Homo sapiens: one gene and its partners. Each later gene encodes a partner of the first gene's protein in a complex. Each region holds a gene or a part of one and is shown in the gene's direction. Other genes may lie near its edges.

What was found. The genes of interacting proteins can lie anywhere in the genome.
Region 2: DRC9 (region 1) and DRC5 share a complex: the UniProt entries of both Homo sapiens proteins name them as parts of the nexin-dynein regulatory complex.
Region 3: DRC9 (region 1) and FBXL13 share a complex: the UniProt entries of both Homo sapiens proteins name them as parts of the nexin-dynein regulatory complex.

What each region holds. Positions count from the first base shown.
Region 1 is NC_000003.12:197,949,955-197,956,991, reverse strand, and holds part of DRC9 (dynein regulatory complex protein 9), read left to right. Parts: intron 1-381; exon of another isoform or gene 382-1,218; coding exon of another isoform or gene 1,219-1,242; intron 1,243-2,844; coding exon of another isoform or gene 2,845-2,989; intron 2,990-5,680; coding exon of another isoform or gene 5,681-5,833; intron 5,834-6,013; coding exon of another isoform or gene 6,014-6,024; exon of another isoform or gene 6,025-6,056; intron 6,057-6,692; exon of another isoform or gene 6,693-6,802; intron 6,803-7,037. Other genes in the region: RPL35A (large ribosomal subunit protein eL33), read right to left, coding at 1,219-1,242, 2,845-2,989, 5,681-5,833, 6,014-6,024. UniProt on the Homo sapiens protein: Component of the nexin-dynein regulatory complex (N-DRC), a key regulator of ciliary/flagellar motility which maintains the alignment and integrity of the distal axoneme and regulates microtubule sliding in motile axonemes.
Region 2 is NC_000006.12:44,280,668-44,287,704, reverse strand, and holds part of DRC5 (dynein regulatory complex subunit 5), read left to right. Parts: coding exon 1-156; intron 157-425; exon of another isoform or gene 426-515; intron 516-1,172; coding exon 1,173-1,741; intron 1,742-5,145; coding exon 5,146-5,595; intron 5,596-7,037. UniProt on the Homo sapiens protein: Component of the nexin-dynein regulatory complex (N-DRC) a key regulator of ciliary/flagellar motility which maintains the alignment and integrity of the distal axoneme and regulates microtubule sliding in motile axonemes.
Region 3 is NC_000007.14:103,064,766-103,071,802, reverse strand, and holds part of FBXL13 (F-box and leucine-rich repeat protein 13), read left to right. Parts: intron 1-7,037. UniProt on the Homo sapiens protein: Substrate-recognition component of the SCF (SKP1-CUL1-F-box protein)-type E3 ubiquitin ligase complex.

The sequences.
Region 1 (7,037 bases):
GGGCTTAGGTGGCAAACTCCCAGTTTCTTGTTGACATTTTCAGTGCAATTTAAAGATGTTAATTTAAAAAACTACCTGTGCTGTAGAGATCAGTAACCCTCAGGGGGCAGACAAAAAGACTGTTACTGCATCAGTTAGAAATGTAGTACTACCTGGGCAACATAGTGAGGCCCATCTCCACAAATAACTAAAAAGTTAACTGGTTGTGGCTGCACATGCCTGTGGCCCCAGCTATTTAGGAGGCTGAGGCAGGAGGTTTGCCTGAGCCGAGGAGGTTGAGGTTGAGGTTGCAGTAAGCTGTAATCACGCCACTGCACTCCAGCCCAAGCAACAAAACAAGACCTTGTCTTCAAAAAAAAAAAAAAAACCATACAGCAAAACTGATGCCTTAGTTGTTTTATTTTAGCATATCCCCAAGAAATCTAAAATATTTAGGAGGCCTGCTTAAAGTGCAATCTTGAACTTTACCAGATTAAAACATGAAGCCAAAGAAAGCTGCCACCTTTCCGTGCACTATTCCCAACCTCCATGTACCTACCATAGGATTGCTTTTTATGAGTGGAGTAATATGGCTTAATTTTATTTTAATATACTGGAATGCTTTGTCCAGTCACAAGTCCCAAGAGCTTCTCATCCCAGTCTATCCAAATGAACTGCCAAAGCCCATCAACATAATCTCCATTCAAATTTTAAGTTTCCCAATCTGCATTGAACAAATGCATAGTATCACAAAGCACTTGGCAGGTGTGGTGGCTCATAACTGTATCCCAGCACTTCAGGAGAGGCCAAGGAAGGAGGATTGCTTGAGCCCAGGAGTTTGAAGCCAGCATAGGCAAGAGTCAGACCCTCTCTACAAAAAATTTAAAAATGACCCAGGGATGGTGGCATGAGCCTGTGGTCCCAGCTACTTCAAAGGCCAAGGGAGGATTGCTTGAGCCTTTGAATGTGAGGCTGCAGCGAGCACCACTACACTCCAGCATGGGCAACAGAGCAAGACTCTGTCAAAGATACTCGCATTAAAACCCGTTCCCTTCTAAATCTCTGTACTCGCCCTGTAATTTTCATCACATGTCTCTCTGACCCCCTTGTACTCCAAAAATGCTGAGCAACCTCTATCATTTTAAGCATGTAGCAAATCAATTTAAGGTAGTAAGTTTTTTAATCCACTTAAAAATACAAGAGCACAAATCCACATTTATTTATTGATTTTTCGTTAGTTTAAATCCTTGAGGGGTACAGCATCTGCAGGGAAAAAAGAACACAAAACATTAGGTGAATGTTATATATACGTCTACAAATCAAGAACCGTAATACGGATAAATCTCTGAAAGGCTACCAATTACATGTTCTAGTGGTAAGGAAAGTTTTTATAGCCTTCAGTCTCTACGTGAACATACCGTAAGAACCGGCACTCATAAAAAACATGTACTGGCCAGGTGCTGTGGCTCACACCTGTAATCCCATCACTTTGGGAGGCCTAGGCGGGCAGATCCTAAGGTCAAGAGATAGAGACCATCCTGGCCAACATGGTAAAACCCTGTCTCTACTAAAAAATACAAAAATCAGCTGGGCATGGTGGTACGTGCCTATAGTCCCAGCTACGCAGGAGGCTGAGGCAGGAGAATCGCTTGAACCTGGGAGCTTGCAGTGAGGCAAGATCCCACCACTGCACTCCAGCCTGGTGACAGAATGAGACTCTGGTCTCAAAAAAAAAAAAAGAAAAAGAAAAACATGTACTGAAGGTACATTTAATTTTGCTTCTTCTAAAGACAGAGTAAAAGCCTCCTCTGTTGATAAACCCTAATGAACCACTTAGCAGGGTTCAACAGTACCCCCTGGCCCCAAGAATACATGGTATGCATATATTCTTGGTCCCAAGAATATACAGTCTACATTCCAAAATGGACCCTAAAGAAAAAGTACGAACTATTTGAGAAAAATTACAGGAGAAAATTGAGAAAAATTTAGAGTCCAAGGCTGGCACCAAAGACCTGAGACCTAGGAACATGAGAGTCTGTTTTCTTCATGTACAAAATAAAGCTACTAACACCTGTTCTAACAAGACTGACATGATGGAAATGGCAAAATATTAACAATTATGCCAGGCGTAACTGTTGAATTGTTGCTTTCTAACAATTACTTCAGTGCCCAATAAATATCTTCACCAGAAAACTATTTATTCAAGGCTGGCTGTGGTGGCTCAAGCATATAATCCCAGCACTCTGGGAGGCCAAGGTGGGCAGATCACTTGGGCTCAGGAGTTCAAGACCAGCCTGGGCAACATGGAGAAACAAAATACAAAAATACAAAAAATTATCTGGGCATGGTGGTATATACGCCTGTAATTCCAGCTACTCGGGAGGCTGAGGCACAAGAATCACATGAACTTTGGAGGCAAAGGTAGCAGCAAGCTGAGATCATGCCACTGCACTCCAGCCTGCGTGACAAAGTGAGACCTTGTCTCAAAAAAACACAACAAAAACCCCAAAAATTAGCTGGGTGTGGTGGCACACGCCTATGGTCCCAGCTACTTGGGGGGCTGAGGTGGAAGGATTGCTTGAACCCAGGAGGTCGAGGCTGCAATAAGCTGTGATTATGCCACTGCACCCCAGCCTGGGTGACAAAGTGAGACCCTGTCTCCCCCCAAAAAAAAAACAAAAAACAAACAACCAAACACCTAATTCTTTCAATTACTATCTCTCCAGTGTTCTGCAATACACAAATTTTGCAGCATAATTTACTGGTGTCAATTTCACAACCACAGAAGTCCTCAGAAGTCAAAGCACAACACCTTGAACCTAGTCTGATTCATCAGACGTCCATTTTGCTAAAAACCATACTCACCACTCGGATTCTGTGTCCAATGGCCTTAGCAGGAAGATTGCTTCGGAATTTGGCACGAACCATGCCACTGTTTCCATGGGCCCGAGTTACTTTTCCCCAGATGACTCTGGTTTTGTTTGGTTTGCCGCCAGGAGTGACTGTGTTGCTGATTTTAAAAAGGGAAAGAAGAGGAATACAAGCTGATATAGTTGGATACAAATTCAAGGTGACCTCTACACGAGTGGCTCTCAACCCTGGTTACCCACTTCATCACCTGAGAAACTTTAAATGCCTAGAACACCATTCATTCAACAGATACTTATCGAGTAACTATTGTATGCCAGGCCCTTCTGTAAAATACAGCAGCTATAAAACAAAAATCTTTCACATGATAACCAAGTAAGTTTAAGGAAAATACATAGGTCAGATGATAACAGAGGCAATATTGAAAAAATAGCAAAAAAGGACAAGTGTGAGGATATTTGTGTGTACAGAAAGGAGGAATTACCTGCCATTTTAAATAGCCAAGGAAGGTCTCACTGAGGTGACCATGGAACAAAGACTGGAAAGGGAGGGGAAATGCCATGAAGTGATCACGGGATGACTAGCGCAGGCACTGGGGCCAAGGAGTGTGTGTCCTGGCCGGAAGAAAGACTGAAGACACCAAGGGGTTAATCCCAGCTGAGATAAAGAGAATTATGGAGCTCTTAATGACGGGCTTTTACTGAATGAGAGAAACTACTGTGGTTCGAGCAATGTACAAAGGATATGACTTTATATATATTTCCTTTAAAGACCACGGGGTTGTCTTGTCACCCAGGCTGCAGTACAGTGGCCCAATCATAGCTCACTGCAGCCTCTATCTCCTGGCATCAAGCAATCCTCCCACCTAGGGCTCTCAAATGCTGGGGCTACAAGTGTGAGCCACTGCACCTGACTTAAAATTTTAAAGGAACACATTGGCTGTAGAAGAAAAGGTGGGGCAATGATTAAAACACTTTCCCAGAGATTTTAATTGGCTTGGAGTGGGTGAAGACAATAGGATTTGCTCTTGTTGTCCAGGCTAAGGTGCAATGGCACGATGGCTCACGCCTGTAATCCCAGCACTTTGGGAGGCTGGGGCGGGTGGATCACGAGGTCAGGAGTTCGAGACCAGCCTGGCCAACATGGTGAAACCCTGTCTCTACTAAAAATACAAAAGTTAGCCGGGTGTGGTGGTGCGCGCCTGTAATCCCAGCTACTGGGGAAGCTGAGGTTGCAGTGAGCTGAGATCACACCACTGCACTCCAGCCTGGGCAACAGAGCAACACTTTGTCTCAAAAAAAAAAAAAAGTCTACAGCATAAACATCTTTAGGCATGCATAAAAACTAATTTTGGCCTGGTGCAGTGACTTGCGCTATAATCCCAGCACTCTGGGAGGCCGAGGCAGGTGGATTACTTGAGGTCAGGAGTTCAAGACCAGAGTGACCAACACTGTGAAACCCCGTTTCTACTAAAAACATAAAATTAGCTGGGTGTGGTGGCACACGCCTGTAATCCCACCTCACTCGGAGGCTGAGGCAGGATAATCGCTTGAACCCGGGAAGCAGAGATTACAGTGAGCTGAGATTGTGCCATTGCACTTTAGCCTGGATAACAAGAGCAAAACTCTGTCTCAAAAAAGAAAGAAAAAAAGAAAAGAAAGAAAAGAAAAAACAAGGGGCGGGGCACCGTGGCTCCTGCCTGTAATCCCAGCACTTTGGGAGGCTGAGGTGGGTGGATCACAAGTTCAGGAGTTTAAGACCAGCCTGGCCAAAATGGTGAAACCCCATCTCTACTAAATATACAAAAATTAGACAGGCATGGTGGCGGCCGCCTGTAATCCCAGCTACTCAGGAGGCTAAGGCAGGAGAATCCCTTGAACCCGGGAGGCGGAGGTTGCGGTGAGCCGATATTGTGCTACTGCACTCCAGCCTAGGTGACAGTGAGACTCCGTCTCCAAAAAAAAAAAAAAAAAAAAAAAAAACCCATAATTTTAAGGCATTAACAAAATGCATTAAGCACAAGTGTTCTAAAAATCCTTAAATTCTGGCAAAAGGAGCCGAGAAAAAAAATTAGAAACCTTAAAAGGATCACAATATAAGGAATTACCTCCTTTATTGCTTACAAGTGCAAAAGGTACCTAAATCCAACACCACCCTCAGAAGTAACGTCCTTCTAAAACTCCCCATTAAGTTCCTTAATGACGCAAAATAGAAGCCACAGCAATACCAATCCAGCCTGGCCAACATGGGGAAACCCATTCTCTAGTAAAAATACAAAAATTAGCCGGGCGTGGTGGCACACCCCTGTAAGCCCAGCTACTCAGGAGGCTGAGGCAGGAGAATCGCTTGAGCCAGGAGGCAGAGGCTGCAGCGAGCCAAGATCGCGCTACTGCCCTCCAACCTGGGCAACAGAGACTCTTGTCACAAAAACAAAAAAACAATACCAAGTACTTCAGCTAAATCTTTTGTTTATTATTTCAATAGGATAATGAGGCCAGGCGCGGTGGCTCAAGCCTGTAATCTCAGCACTTTGGGAGGCCGAGGTGGGCGGATCACCTAAGGTCAGGAGTTTGGGACCAGCCTGGCCAACATGGCAATACCCTGTCTCTACTAATAATACAAAAACTAGCCGGGCGTGGTGGCCGGCGCCTGTAATCCCAGCTACTCGGGAGGCTGAGACAGGACACTTGCTTGAACCCGGGAGGCGGAGGTTTCGGTGAGGGAGACCAAGTCACTGCATTCCAGCCTCGGCAACAGAGCAAGACTCCGTTATATAAAAAAGAAAATGAGGCAGATCTCAAAAACCCAAAACCTACCAGTGTCATAAACTTACTTCTTTGCTTTATATACATAAGCGCATCTCTTGCCCAAATAGAATTCTGTTTCATCTCGGGCGTAAACACCTTCAATTTTAAGAAGAGCTGTGTGCTCCCTTTGGTTCCGGAGACCCCGCTTATAGCCAGCAAAAATGGCCTTGGACCACAGCCTAAGACACAAAAGATACACAACATGAAACATAAGCTTCAAAAAACCAATCTGACTTGTAATCACCCCCACCCAAAAGTTACTCAGAGCAAACATCTAAGTTTTTTCTTGCCAATTTTAAGCTCGCATTTACGTTCACGTCTAACACACAAAAATAAAGAACTATATTTAAAACGCGTACCTTCCAGACATAGTTCCTTTTAGAAGTCCCGTTCCCAGCAGGCCTTAAAACAAACAAAAAGATTAGTTTAAAACCAAGCCACACAAGTTTCCCACCTCGTCCCCTCTCGTTTAAGCCCCTAAAGCAAATTCCTTTTGGATGGGAGTTTCATGTAGGAGTTCGGGGACAACAATGCCAGAACATCCATATGAAACGCAGGGTCCGGCAAGACATTCAAACCTCAGAGAACAGCTGGTATCTAAGCAAACTTCAGAATGAAGACAAAACTAAGGGACAGGAGTCACAAAAATGACTCTCAGAAAAGCCTGAGAAAATGCATGCCGTTATCAGTAGGCAACACTCAGGAAAAGAAATGAAGCCTTAAAGAGAAACACACACGTAAGACTTTTATGCAATGGCTGGGGGAGAAAAGCTGAGGAAAGAGACTGGTCAGACAAGCCAAGGAAGGTATGGACTGGGAGGAAACGGATGAAGGAAGCACTGCCTCATGGACAACTGCACACGAACAAAAACATCGTTTCACTCCGTTCAGGCCCAGGAATTTAACTGGGATAACCCGGGCAGCCGTTCTCCGGGTGTCAGGGGACCAAACACCATCAGCCCAACATCTCCTCCATCCTGTTCTCCCTCTTCTTGAAACCCGTAGAAATCAATGGCTGGCAGAGACTCCGATACGCACCGGCGACTCGCCAAGGCACAGGAACAAACCTACTCCGGTTATTTGCCCCCAAATTTCAGCAGCAGACCCTTCACTCACCTCCACAGGAGCCAAGATGGCGGTAAGAGAAGGACGAGGCCCCGCCGCGTGGCCTTGTGGGATTAAACATCTTTCGACTCCGCCCTCAATTTAGGCATCTTCTCCAAACGCCAGAAAAACAATCCTCGGAAATCGGCTTCGCACTGAAATAAGCCACATTCAATAGCACTCTTACAATTATTTTCCTAAGTCCTTTCATCTTGGTAGGCTGCAAAATGTACTACTTGGGAACAAGGGAAGGCAAAATGGTAGCCAGCTAAATCCGCC
Region 2 (7,037 bases), on another chromosome or scaffold:
CAATCACACCAGTCCCTGCAAAGTCCAGGAACCCACATCCCAGGGCCAATATCCGTCGGATGCGCCGGATCATTGCTGAGGATCCTGAGTGGTCACTGGCCATCGTGCCCCTCCTCACAGAGCTCTGCATTCAGCACATTATCAGGAACTTCCAGAGTGAGTCTGTCCCTGCTTTAGGTGGGCAGGAGAAGGCCAAGAGGGGGGCTAGGTGGGTGGGGACTGTCCGGAGCCAAGACTGCAGAAGCTGGGTCCTGGGGCAGCCCCTGCTCTCCCGTATGGCATCCTCATACCCACTCAACACTTCCCTTCCACCCAGGGCCAAGACAGTTTCTCCTTCTGTTCCCACTGGCAGGTCCCACCAGACTCCCACCCACACTGCACCCTCCATGCCTCTGCCCTCTCCTTGCCTTTTCTACTCTCTCCAGCAAAACCCAGCCTGAGCCATATCTACTTCCTCCTCCAGAAAGCCTTCCCAAGTGAACCGCCCTCTACTCTGATGGAGTCTTCCATGCCATGTAAGGGCTCTTGGTTTGTTCCATATTTTGTGCTCTGTAATATTGATCCTTTCCAAAGATGGACTGCCAGCCTCTCCTACCAGATGGGGCGCTGTCTGAGGACAGGGCCATTATTTCATCTACAGCAACTATCATCACCCAGTCTCACTCATTTTACTTGTTTATTGTCAGCCTCCCCTCACTGGAATGTAAACTCCAAAAGGGAGAGCCCTGTTTGCTTACTCTTCTATCTCCAGCACGTGGGACATAGTAGTCTCTCATAGTGCTACCTCCAGTGTCTGGCACATAGTAGGTGCTCAAAAAATTTCTTGTTTTGAAATGGATGAATCAAATAAGATTGGAAGCCTCTGACCTCAGGGATTGTATCCCCCATCAGACCAGGTGATAATTGAGAGTTGGACCTGAGAGTCTTCCTCAGTCTGGGAACTCCCTGAGAACAGATGCTGAGATGTCCACCTTCAGGCAGGGAACATCCCAAAGCTAAAGGCTGTGTCCCACCCTCTGCTTGAGCCCCCCTGAGAGCAGAGGCTGTCTATCCCCTAAGCAGGGAAGGGTCTCTCCTTTGCCTGGTGCTCCCAGGCAGGCCCAGCCTGAGGCATCATGTTGAGGTGTCCCCCAACACTGTGACCCCCTGCGCTCCTTCCTCTGTTCCCAAAGAAAACCCTATCCTGAAGCAGATGCTCCCGGAACACCAGCAGAAGGTCCTGAACCACCTGTCCCCTGACCTACCACTGGCTGTGACCGCCAACCTGATAGACAGTGAGAACTACTGGCTCCGCTGCTGCATGCATCGCTGGCCCGTGTGCCACGTGGCCCACCATGGCGGCAGCTGGAAACGCATGTTCTTCGAGCGGCACCTGGAGAACCTGCTAAAGCACTTTATCCCAGGCACCACAGACCCTGCGGTGATCCTCGACCTGCTGCCGCTCTGCCGGAATTACGTGCGCAGGGTCCACGTCGATCAGTTCCTTCCGCCGGTGCAGCTCCCGGCCCAGCTCCGGCCGGGCGACCAGTCCGACTCAGGCAGCGAGGGAGAGATGGAGGAGCCCACCGTTGACCACTACCAACTGGGCGATCTGGTAGCTGGCCTGAGCCACCTGGAGGAGCTGGACCTGGTGTACGATGTCAAGGACTGCGGCATGAATTTCGAGTGGAATCTCTTCCTCTTCACCTACCGTGACTGCCTCTCCTTGGCAGCCGCCATCAAGGCATGCCACACCCTCAAGGTACTGTCTGCTCCCAGCCTTCCCCCCACCCCTTCTCAGCATCTCTCAGATTCCCTCTCCCCTCCTCTTCCTCCTCTATTATTGCCTTCTTCCTATTTCCTTCTCTTTCATTGGCCAAGTGTTTTTTAATGCACCCTGCACCAAGATACACGGTTCTGGGGGTGTAGAGATGAACAAGGCGCTGCTCTCCCAGTTCACCAGTTGGTTTCATTGAACAAACAGCTGCGCTCCAGGCCCTGTCCTAGGTGCTGAAGATTCAAGGATGAGCAAGATTATCATTTGTGCCCTCTGTAGCTAACAGTCTGATGGGATAAAGGCACTAATCAGCAATCATATAAACATAAAATTGATACTAGAATAGGGTTGCCAGATGTAGCAAATAGAAATACAGGACATCCAGTTAAATGTGAATTTCAGGTCCAGGCACGCTTGTAGTCTTCCAGAGACTGAGGAGGCTGAGGTAGGAGAATCCCTTGAGCCTCGGAGTTCAAGCCTGCAGTGAGCTGCAATCACACCACTGCACTCCAGCCTGGGTTACAAAATGAGACCCTGTCTCCAAAAATTTTGAATTTCAGATAAACAGCAAAGAATTTTTATAAGTATGTCCCGAATATTCCATGGGGCGTTCTTATTTATCTGAAATTTATTTTTAACTGGGCATCCTGTACTTTTTTCTGGTACCCCTGAATTGGGATGAATGCTATAAAGAAGAGATACTCTTATGAGAGATTGTAAAGGAGCATTTGACCTTGCAAGGGAAGGCTTCCCTGAACAAATGTCACTTACATAGAGATTAGAAGGAGGAGGACGAGTTACAGTCTCAGAGGGAGGAGCGTTCCAGACAGAGGGAGCAGTGCATACAGGCTCTATGGGCAGAGTGAACATGGCCAGCTCAAAGAGAAAGAGAAGACTGTGTGGCTGGCGCAGAGTGTGAGGTGGTCAGCCTTGCTGGGTGAAGGAGGCTTTGTCCAGGAGGCTATCTTTATCCTTAGGAGCTCTGGGACACCATCCAAGGGTTTTAGGCAAAAAAGTAGGTACCATTACTGGATTTCACATGTGAAAATGTCACTCCGTCTGTGAGGGAGGATGGCCTGGGCAGGGCAGCAGTGGACATGCAGATTACCTAGGAGATCACTGCCAAATCCAGGTGAGGGTGAGGGTCATTTCAGCGAGGGTAGTGTCTGTGGAGACTCAAAGGAGTGGAGAGAGTCAACACATATTTAGGCAGACATGTGTCTGGCATGCACCTGGCCACACTGGCACAGGGAGGATCTGAAGGAGAAGGAAGGAGAAGGAGGTGAGGTGCAAGACCTCTGGCTTGTGAGGCTGGATGGCTGGAGGGACCATGTGCAGAGACAGGGAATGTGGGAAGAGGATCAGTTTTGAGGGGGAAGAGTGTAAGTTTCAGTTTGAGGCATCTCAAAGAAGGGGTCATTTCGTTAGTTGGGTAGAGGGTCCGAAGCTCAGATGAGAGGTCTGAATTGAATGTGGGAATGTGTGCCATCTTCATGAAGGTGGCAGTTGCAGCCCTGGGTTTGGATGGAGTCTCACAGGGGAGAGCCAAAAGCAAGACAACAAGAGGCCTGGCATGTGGTCTCAGTGGAAGAAGAAGAGCTTGCCAGGAAGCCAGAGGGAGGAGGAAATGGGGAAACATGGCATTGTGTCACAGAGCAAGGGAGGGGTATGTTTCAAGTAGAGGGAGTGAGCAACGGGGTGGAATAGAGCTGAGGACTGGATTTAGTGAACATGGAGGTCACTGAGGGGGAGCTATTTCAGTGGAGTGGCAGGAGCAGAGGCCAGATAGCAGTGGTTTCTGGGGAGAGTGGGAAGTGAGGAATGGGTGGCTGTGATCAGCTTTTTCAAGAACTTGGCTGCGAAGGGGAAAAGGTACAGCCATAACCGATGAGAGCTTTGGGTTCCTTCAGAATAACTCACATATGTTTAAAACCAGTGTAAGGCTCCATCCAGTTGCAAGAAAGGGGATGAATGTAGAAGAGAGGCACGGGTTCATAGACCAATAAGTCAGTGCTTGGTATCAGGAAAATGACAGGTTCCCATTCAATGACTGAGAAGGCAAGAGGAGAGTTCACCTGCTGAAAGAGGGGGCTCAGCAAGGAGGCCCCTGAATTCTGAGGAGGCTGCAAAAAGCTGAAATAGTTGTTGTAGATTATAAGAGGGTATTTTGGCCAGAGAAATATAGTTAGATTGGCATGCAGCGTTACAAGCCTATTGGTGTTTCCGGTGATAGCAACCAGTCCCATCAGCTGATGTTTTCTATTTTGTCAGTTGCTTGCGCACAGGCATGCAGAAAATAGAGAGTGGGGCTGATCCAGGGTTAGGGCTTTGCCAGAGAGACGCAATGAAAAGAGAAGAGACACAAAGGACTCAGCTGGGTAAGAGGGGTATAAAAAGGAGTGAACCGAAGGGTAGAGAGAGAGAGGCCAGACACTCAGAGGTCTCAAGGGAGAGAGAGGAGTGGGACAAGCCAGCGGGAAGGTGAGGGGGAGAGGTTCCCATGGACAATATTCATACTGCCAGCCCCATCCCCTTTCCTTCATTCCTTTATCTCATCCTTTTCCTGCTTCTCCACCTCCCCACTGTCTCCCTGGTTCTTGCCCTGGCAACCTCCTTCAAAGAGGTCCTCTCCTTGCCCTGGTGGATCTTGGCTGGGAGAGGAGGATGCAGTGAGGGGCTGAGGCCTCAGGCAGGCTTGGATTCCAAACCTGTCTCAACTGCTTCAATCACTGCATTACTCTGGGGAAATAATGTAAGCCTCCATTTTCTGTCTGTAAAATGGAGAGAACTTTCTCTTCTTCATCGAGATGCTGAAGGTTAGAGATAATGGTTGTGAAAGACCCAAGCGGCCGGGCGCGGTGGCTCACGCCTGTATTCCCAGCACTTTGGGAGGCTGAGGCGGGTGGATCACGAGGTCAGGAGATCAAGACCATCCTGGCTAACACGGTAAAACCCTGTCTCTACTAAAAATACAAAAAATTAGCAGGGCGTGGTGGCGGGCACTTGTAGTCTCAGCTACTCAGGAGGCTGAGGCAGGAGAATGGTGTGAATCCGGAAGGTGGACCTTGCAGTGAGCCAAGATCACGCCACTGCACTCCAGCCTGGGTGACAGAGCGAGACTCCGTCTCAAAAAAAAAAAAAAAAAAAAAGATAAAAAAGGAAGACCCAAGCAGCATACCCAGCATGTAGTAATTGCTCAATAAACAGTGATCTTTCCTCCCTGCTACCTGCCACCAATTCTACACTACTCTGCCATGCTGGTAGGCCTGGCCCCCTCCAAGACCCAGCCAGGTGGCCAACACTAGGTGAGCCAAGTTTGCCAAAGATCTAGGTGGGCAGGCTGATTATCCCTGGCTGGCAGTTGCTGTAGACCCTCTGCCTGCCCACAGATCTTCAAGCTGACCCGAAGCAAGGTGGATGATGACAAGGCACGCATCATAATTCGAAGCCTTCTGGACCACCCAGTCCTCGAGGAGCTGGACTTGTCACAAAACCTCATTGGAGACCGTGGTGCACGAGGTGCTGCCAAGCTGCTGAGCCACAGCCGCCTGCGTGTGCTCAACCTGGCTAACAACCAGGTGCGTGCACCCGGTGCCCAGTCCCTGGCTCACGCTCTGGCACACAACACCAACCTCATTTCCCTCAACCTACGTCTCAACTGCATCGAGGATGAGGGTGGCCAGGCTCTTGCCCATGCCTTGCAGACCAACAAGTGCCTCACCACGCTGCACCTCGGTGGCAATGAGCTGTCTGAGCCCACCGCCACACTCCTGTCACAGGTGCTCGCCATCAACACCACACTCACCAGCATCAACCTGTCCTGCAACCACATCGGGCTGGTGAGCCACCTATTCTGGGCTTGTGAGGGTGGGTGTGGAATCCAACTGCCAGGGGTACTTGTGGGATAATTGTGAAGATCACAGAGTTTACATACTACATACTGCATCAAGTATGCACACATACTGTGTATCCCAATGATTATTTTTCCTTTAATCCTTACAGTTACCTAAGTAACTGTATATTAACCCTAAGCATATTTAACCCTAAATATATTTAAGTATATAACTAAGTATATTTAACCCTACTTTCTAGATGGAAAACTAAGTTTCAGAGAGGATAGTGAGTTGCCCAAGGGCATCAAGTCAGTAGCAAGTGGCAAGGCTACGATTCAAACCCAAGATTGATTGAAAGCCTGAGTCCTTTCTAATAGACTGTGTCTCTAAAACTTTCTTAACCAAGTCTGAGAGTAAGAAATGCAATTTACGACCAGGCACAGTGGCTCACGCCTGTAATCCCAGCACTTTGGGAGGCTGAGGTGGGTAGATCACCTGAGGCCAGGAGTTCGAGACCAGTCTGGCCAACATGGTGAAACCCCATATCTACTAAAAATACAAAAATCAGCCCAATGTGGTGGCATGCACCTGTAACCCCAGCTACTTGGGAGCCTGAGGCAGGAGAATTGCTTGAACCCAGGAGGCGGAGATTGCAGTGAGCTGAGATCGTGCCCCTGCACTCCAGCCTGGGTGACAGTGCGAGACTCCGTCTCAAAAAAAAAATGCAATTTACATGAACACTGACATAAACATAATATTGAAATTTATGACGTGATATATGCTGATATTTTCCTTTACATTCCATTCTATTGTATTTTTTAAAATGCTTCTGTGACCCATTAAATTGACTTTGCAACACACTACTGGGTCACAACCACAGAATGGTAGCATTCTGCCTCCCAACGTGAAATTCTTTCACATTGGGGCTAGCCCACCCAGCCCAGCAGGGGTTGGAGCTGTGATGACCATTGAGCAGGGCCCTCCATTAGGTCACTGAACCCTCTACTAAACCTCCCCATGAGAACAGCCTTGCTCACCTACACAGGCACATACACGCACACACACGTGCATGCGCGCACACACACACACACACAGTTTCTAGAGGGGGTGCTGTTGACTGCAAGTAATAAAAAGCTTAATCAGAAATGGCTTAAGCAGGAGGAATATTCAGTGTCTCCCACAACCAGAATTAGAGGGTTGTAGGGTCGGTAAACCCCTGGGTTCAGTGCTACCCTCTGCTCTGCCCACCCCAGTCTCATGGCCAATGCCTCGCTAGTGCTTCTGTCAGTCCCAAGATGGCTGCCACAGTTCTGACATCTCATACAGGGACATGCCCAGAGGCAGAAACCGGGAGAACACCTGCTCCCTTTTCTTCTCTTTTTGGAATGAGGAGAAGCTTCCCAGAAGCCACCCTCTCTCAGCTTCCCCCTCACATCTCATTAGATTTG
Region 3 (7,037 bases), on another chromosome or scaffold:
AACCTCTTCTGAATTTCATCTACCTGTCCTAAATAAAACCTGATTTTCTACCTACAATATCATTTTCCTGCAAATCTCTTGAATAGAGACTGATTTTTTTAAAAATCAGGCCTGGCTTGGTGGTTCATGCCTGTAATCCCAGCACTGTGAGAGCCCAAGGCAGGTGGATTGCTTGCCAGGAGTTCAAGACCAGCCTCGGTAACATAGTGAGACCCTGTGTGTACAAAAATTAAAAAAAAAAAAAAAAAAAAGCTAACTTGTCTTAGTGGCTCACACCTGTAGTCCCTGCTACTCATGAGGCTGAGAGGAGAGGATCACTTGAGCCCAGGAATTTGAGGCTGCAGTGAACTATGATTGCACCACTGAACTCCAGCCTGGGTGATGGAGCAAGACCCTATCTCTAAAAAAATAAAAAATTAAAAAACATTTTAAACAATCCTGCTTGGTCCCCTGGGCTTACTGAATCTGTTGATAGATATTTTTCATCCGTTTTAGAAAATTCTTGGTTCTTTTCAAATAGTACTTCTATTCAGTTCTCTCTTTTCCTTTTGGAACTCCAATCGTACATATGTTAGCTTTTTTTTTCTTTTTCTTTACCTTGTTCTACATGCCTCTTTTGATCTCTTCTGCTTTTTCCCCATTTTCTTCTTTTTGAGCTCAAGTTTGGATCTTTTTCATTGATGGTTTTCAAGTTTACTAATTTTGTTTTATGCTGTGTCCAGTCTACTCTTAAATACATCAAATGAAATCTTAATTTTAGACATGTTTTTCAGTTCTAGAATGACAATTTGATGTTTAAATAAATTCTGATTATTAGAATTATGCATCTTTTCATTCAGTTTGCCTTTTTCTGTTTTCTTTATTTGTTCTCTCCAAATCTGTTAAAATTTGATCCCCAGTGTTGGAGGTGGGGCCCAGTGGGAGGTATTTGAGTCATGTGGGCAGATCCCTCAAGAATGGCTTTGTGCCCTCCCCTGTGATAATTAGTGAGTTCTCCCTCTATTAGTTCACCCAAGAGCTGGTTGTTTAGAAGAGCCTCCCTCTAGCTGTTTCTCTTACTCCTTCTCTTCCCATGTTACATGCTGGCTCCCTTTGCCTTCTGCAGTGAGTAAAAGCTTCCTGAGGCCTTCGCCAGAAGCCGAGCAGATGCTGGCACCATGCTTCTTGTACACCCTGCAGAACCCTGAGCCGCATACAACTCTTTTCTTTATAAATTACCTGGCCTCAGGTATTTCTTTATAGCCGTGCAAAATGGATCAACACACATGTTGATGGTTGTTATTTTAAAATTATTGTTTGTTGCTTATGCCTGTAATTCTAGCACTTTGGGAGGCCGAGGTGGGTGGATCACTTGAGGCCAGGAGTTCGAGACCAGCTGAAACCCTGTCTCTACTAAAAATACAAAAATTTGCCAGGTGTGGTGCACGCCTGTAATTCCAGCTATTTGGGAGGCTGAGGCATGAGAATCGCTTGAACCCAGGAGGCAGAGGTTGCAGTGAGCTGAGATCACACCATTACACTCCAGCCTGGGTGATGGAGTGAGACTGTGTCTCTAAAAAAATAAATAAATAAAATAAATACATAAAATTAAATCATTGTTTGTTAACTTGAATATCCAGATCATTTGTGGGTCTGCTTCTATTGCTTATTTTCTTCTGTTGATAATTCAAGACATTTTCCTGCCTTCATACATACCTAGTAATTTCTTTTTTTTTTTTTTTTTTGAGACAGAGTCTTGCACTGTCGCCCAGGCTGGAGTGCAGTGGCGGGATCTCGGCTCACTGCAAGCTCCGCCTCCTGGCTTCACGCCATTCTCCTGCCTCAGCCTCCCGAGTAGCTGGGACTACAGGCGCCTGCCACCATGCCCGGCTAATTTTTTTGTATTTTTAGTAGAGACGGGGTTTCACCGTGTTAGCCAGGATGGTCTCGATCTCCTGACCTCATGATCCACCTGCCTCGGCCTCCCAAAGTGCTGGGATTACAGGCGTGGGCCACCGCGCCCAGCCCATACCTAGTAATTTCTTATTTTTATTGGACATTGTGTGAGAAAAGAACAATAGAAGTTCCAGATGATATACTCTTTCGCCAGCAAAGGTTCGTCCTTTCCTCTGTATAGGGTACAGAGCTCATGACCTCAGTCCAGGAAGGGACTGATCTGTGTTGAGCTTGGACTGTGGATTTATTTGGGTTCGGTTTACATCTGGTTCATCCCTATTCCTCAGGCATAGCTCTTCTGGGCTTTTGATTGAGAAGCTAGCCAGTCTCTGTCTCCTCAGACTGAAAGATTGTGAGAGATTTGGTTCTGCTCTTCGGAGGTATTTAAGCTTAGCTCTTTAGTTTCCCTTCTAGGCCCTCAACTTTTATATATGTATATATATTCCCCAATTTAAAACTTTTAAAAGTAAACTTTAATATCAAAAATGCAAACTTGGGGAGGGCATAAAAATCACACACAAGGCTGCCACTTCACACTTCGAGGGTTGCACAACGGCCGGGCAAAGGCGCTCCTCACTTTCCAGATGGGGCGGCAACCAGGTAGAGGCGCTCCTCACTTCCCAGAAGGTGCAGCGGCTGGGCAGAGGCGCTCCTCTCTTCCCAGACTGTGGGGCAGCCAGGGAGAGGTGCGCCTTACTTCCCAGACAGTGGGGCGGCAGGGCAGAGGGCCTCCTCACTTCCCAGAGGGGGCGACAGCCAGGCAGAGGTGCTCCTCACTTCCCAGGTGGTGGGGCGGCCGGGCAGAGGTGCTCCTCACTTCCCAGACGGTGGGGCGGCCGGGCAGAGGCGCTCCTCACTTCCCAGATGGTGGGGCGGCTGGGCAGAGGTGCTCCTTACTTCCCAGATGGCGTGGTGGCCGTGGGCCCTCAACTTTAAAATCTGGCAAGTACATTGAAGGTTATGCTGGCTGTATGTTTGAGGCAGGCTTCCTCTTCCTTCCCTGAGATTATGAAAGACTCACTCTGCCTTGTAGGAGTTGATGTTCTAGCTCCTCAGCCTCCTGTGTGAACACTCCCAGAACTCACTGCCTTATGGGAGACAGTGGCCACACTTGGGGCACCTCAAGTTTCTAACCTGTCATGTTACCCCCGTGCCACCACCATAAGCCTATTGGTTTCTCTTCCCATTTGTAGACTTTCTCTGCCTGGGCCCAGCCCTGTCCTCTTTCCTACCCAGAGCTGGCACACGTTCCCAGGGAAAAAAAGCAGCTGTGCATTGTCAGCTCACTTCAGAAAAATTTCCTTCCCCTGGAATTCCATGGCTCGCCAATATCTTTTTTAAATGTGATTTTTGTAATGTGTCTGTTTTTTTCTAGTTGTTGTAGCAGGGTCATTGGACCATGGTGACTTTCCACATCCTACTCAGATATGAAATCCTAGGGAGACTGTCTTGTTTCACTCCTCAGTTTACCTCAGATCTAGAGATAGGTTAGGTGTCTTCCTTGGCTCCCCATTTCCACTTCCAAACTATGTATCTTCCCTCCTTTTTCTAAAGTCTCAGCTTCTTTGTAGTTCATAACATCAGATTTAGCACTCACTGTCTTCATTATGTACCAATCTCTATGTTTTGTTGGTAGCATTAGCATCTGGCTCACCATCTTCCTTTTTCTCTACTCCTGTCATTGTTCTTGTGCCCGCAGTATTCACAGGGATGTTCCGTTCACATCCTTGACCTTTCTTCCAGTTATCTTTGCTTTCACCGTTCCTCAGTCATGTCCTTCTATGGTCATACTCTTAACCATTTTATCCTAAATTGCTGTACCATCTCTGAAATCTCCATTTCTTCATCCACTTATCTCTTAATTTCTTAGCTCACTCACATTGGAGCTTCTACACTAGCACTTCTTCAACTGACTCAAACCACCATTTCATTCAATTATCTTTGCACTGTCAAATATTACTCTTATGTCCTTATTTCTCTCTTTACCCATCTTAGATTCCTTGGTTCATCATTATTGTGGATGTCTATTACCTAAATGTCTTTACAACATTTAGTGATTTAAAATAACAGTATTCATTTTATTATTGCCTCTCACAGTTATGGGAGTTGACAGAATATTATTGCTTGAGATCCCTCATGCACTTACATGTCAGAGTGGCTGAGGTTAAAATCATCTTGAAGGCTTCCTTACCTACATGCCTGGCAGTTGATGCTGGCTGTCGATGAGGACCTCTCCTGAGACTGACAGGTAGAACATCTATGTGTAACATCTCCATGTAGCTTGAGCTTCCTCACAGCGTGGAGGCTGGGTCCCAAAACAGGTGTCCAAGAGACAGAGCCAAGTAAAATCTCCTTTTATAACCTAGCCCCAGAAGTTACTCAACATCACTTTCACTGTATTCTCTTCATTACAAGTGGATTATTAAGACTAATCCATATTCAAGAGGAGAGGAATTAAACCCCACCTCTTTATGTAAGAAATATCATTTGCAGACATGCTTTTAAAATGCCACCACACCATCATTATGATCACTTTCAAATACGATTATCTCCTTTACCTGTTTCTCCCTCTGTCCTATTGATGTGACAAACACCCATCCCTGGTAAAACTCAAATATCCAGCAGTCCGTGCTTACCCCTGAGCAACTGAACATTATTTAAAGGAAGAACACACAATTAAACTGAATTGTGTCACTTTAAATTCAATCCTCAGTTGTCAAATGGGCTCTCAATATCCATAGTCCTACATTTCCTAGTATTTTCAGTTTCTGACAATTCCATTACACCCACAGTGAAAGAGTAGACAAAAAAAAAAAAATTCTTGGGAGGCCGAGGCGGGCAGATCACCTGAGGTTTGGAGTTCAAGACCAGCCTGACCAACATGGAGAAAGATCACTAAAAATACAAAATTAGCTGGGCGTGGTGGCGCATGCCTTTAATCCCAGCTACTCGAGTGGCTGAGGCAGGGGAGTCTCTTGAACCCAGGAGGCGAAGGTTGCGGTGAGCTGCGATCACGCCATTGCACTCCAGCCTGGGCAATGAGAGCGAAACTCCATCTCAAAAAAAAAAAAAAAAATCCTCACAAAATTCTTCCACTGAATATTAAAAAATCAATTGCATTTCAATTCACTAGAACCAAAGTTTTAAACAGTAGCTTTTAAAAATTACATTCATAGGCTGGGCGCAGTGGCTCACGCCTGTAATCCCAGCGCTTTGGGAGGCTGAGGCGGGTGGATCATGAGGTCAGGAGCTTGACACCATCCTGGCTAACAAGGTAAAACCTCGTCTCTACTAAAAATACAAAAAAAATTAGCTGGGCGTGATGGCGGGCGCCTGTAGTCCCAGCTGCTCAGGAGGCTGAGGCAGGAGAATGGTGTGAACCCGGGAGGCAGAGCTTGCAGTGAGCCGAGATCGCACCGCTACATTCCAGCCTGGGCAACAGAGTAAGACTCTGTCTCAAAAAAAAAAAAAGAAATTACATTCATAATAGCCACAAAAAATATAAGGTTTCTTAGGACAAGATGTGAAAGACCTGTTTGGAGGAATTTGTAAAATTTTATTGAAAGATGTTTAAGGTGACCTAAAGAAATGAAGTACTCTGCTGTGTTTATGAATGGGAAAATAACAACATGTAATGTCTTCCCAGAAAATGTATAAATTCAATGCAATTTTAGTTAAAGTCTAAAATTTTTTTCCCCATAAAACTAGACAGCTGATTATAATACTGCAGAAATATTGAGGAGGAGAAAAGTAGCCCTTGACACCTAGAAGCTGGACTGGTGTCATGATCTAGACCTTGGCATTGCTTTGGGCTAGCATGTTGTTAAGCCTTGTCAGTGCTGGAGGGACCCTGGAGGGAGAGGGACTTCAGTTCCTGGTTCCTGTGTGCTTCCTCACTTCTTGTTCACATGACACAGCTTCCAGGAGCATGTGTGTGGTGCACCCAGTGGTGCCCACTCTTCAGCAAGTTTTGCTCACCAGCCTCAGCCCATTGGCACCCCAGCAGGGGGCGTCTGCTCACTAGTGTGAGCTGGTGGGGTCCTGTTCACCAAGCCTTGGACCATCATGGCTGAGAACTATCTCTGTCTCAGGGCAACCTAATGGACTTCCCCACTATACCTCAGCCACACTCCACATTCTCTGAATCTCAGCCTTGGGGAGGTGGCTGCCCTCCTTCCAAGGTTATTTCATCTTTGGGTACTCTGTCTGAGCCACAGGGTGTCCTTTAGTGTTCTCTTTTGCTCTTAGTAGTTACTCTCTTTTTACTAGTTAGTAATTCTTTGAATTGCATTCTTTATTAGAATCTCTTTATGAGATAGAATAAATTGTTCTTTATTCAAAACACGGGTGTGATTTCTGTCTCTTGACTGGACTCTGAGTGATACAGGAGGATTAACTGGAGAGGGACATGAGAACTTTCCGGAGAGTTGGAAAGAAACCACACCCGGGGTGTGGGTATTTTCATTATCAAAATTATACTAATAAGATTTATGCATTTGAAATAATATAAATTTTACCTTAAATTATAATTGAGAATAGGTAGAAATGGGTAGATATATAGATGATACAAAAATCACAGAATAATTATTGTTGAAACTGGGTGATAGGTACATAAGTGTTCCCTATACTACTGTTTCTAAATGTTTGAAATTTAAAAATCTAAAATGAAAGATAGTTATGGCTAGGCTTTTTTTTTCAGAATGTATGTTGCTAGGGATGGATGGAATGACAGATTTGATTTGGCTGTGTAGTCATTTTCTGTTTGTTTGGTGTGTCAATTATCTATTGCCATGTGACATGCAACCAGTTAAAGCACTTGGTGGCTTACAACAACAGGAATCACTTAGTTTGCTTAAAAATTTGAAATTTTGGCAAGGTTTTGCAGGGGGTGGAAGATCCACTTTTAAGATGATATCTTCTTTTGCATGCCTAGCAAGTTGGTGCTGGCTGTTGGCTGGGAGTTCAGCCAGGTCTGTGAACCAGTAGGCTTGGTTCCTCTTCATCTGGACCTGCCCATGGGCTGCTTAGACTTCCTCACAGTATGGTAGCTGATTTCTAAGACCAAACCTCCCCAGAGAGAACCAGGTAGAAGTTATACCATT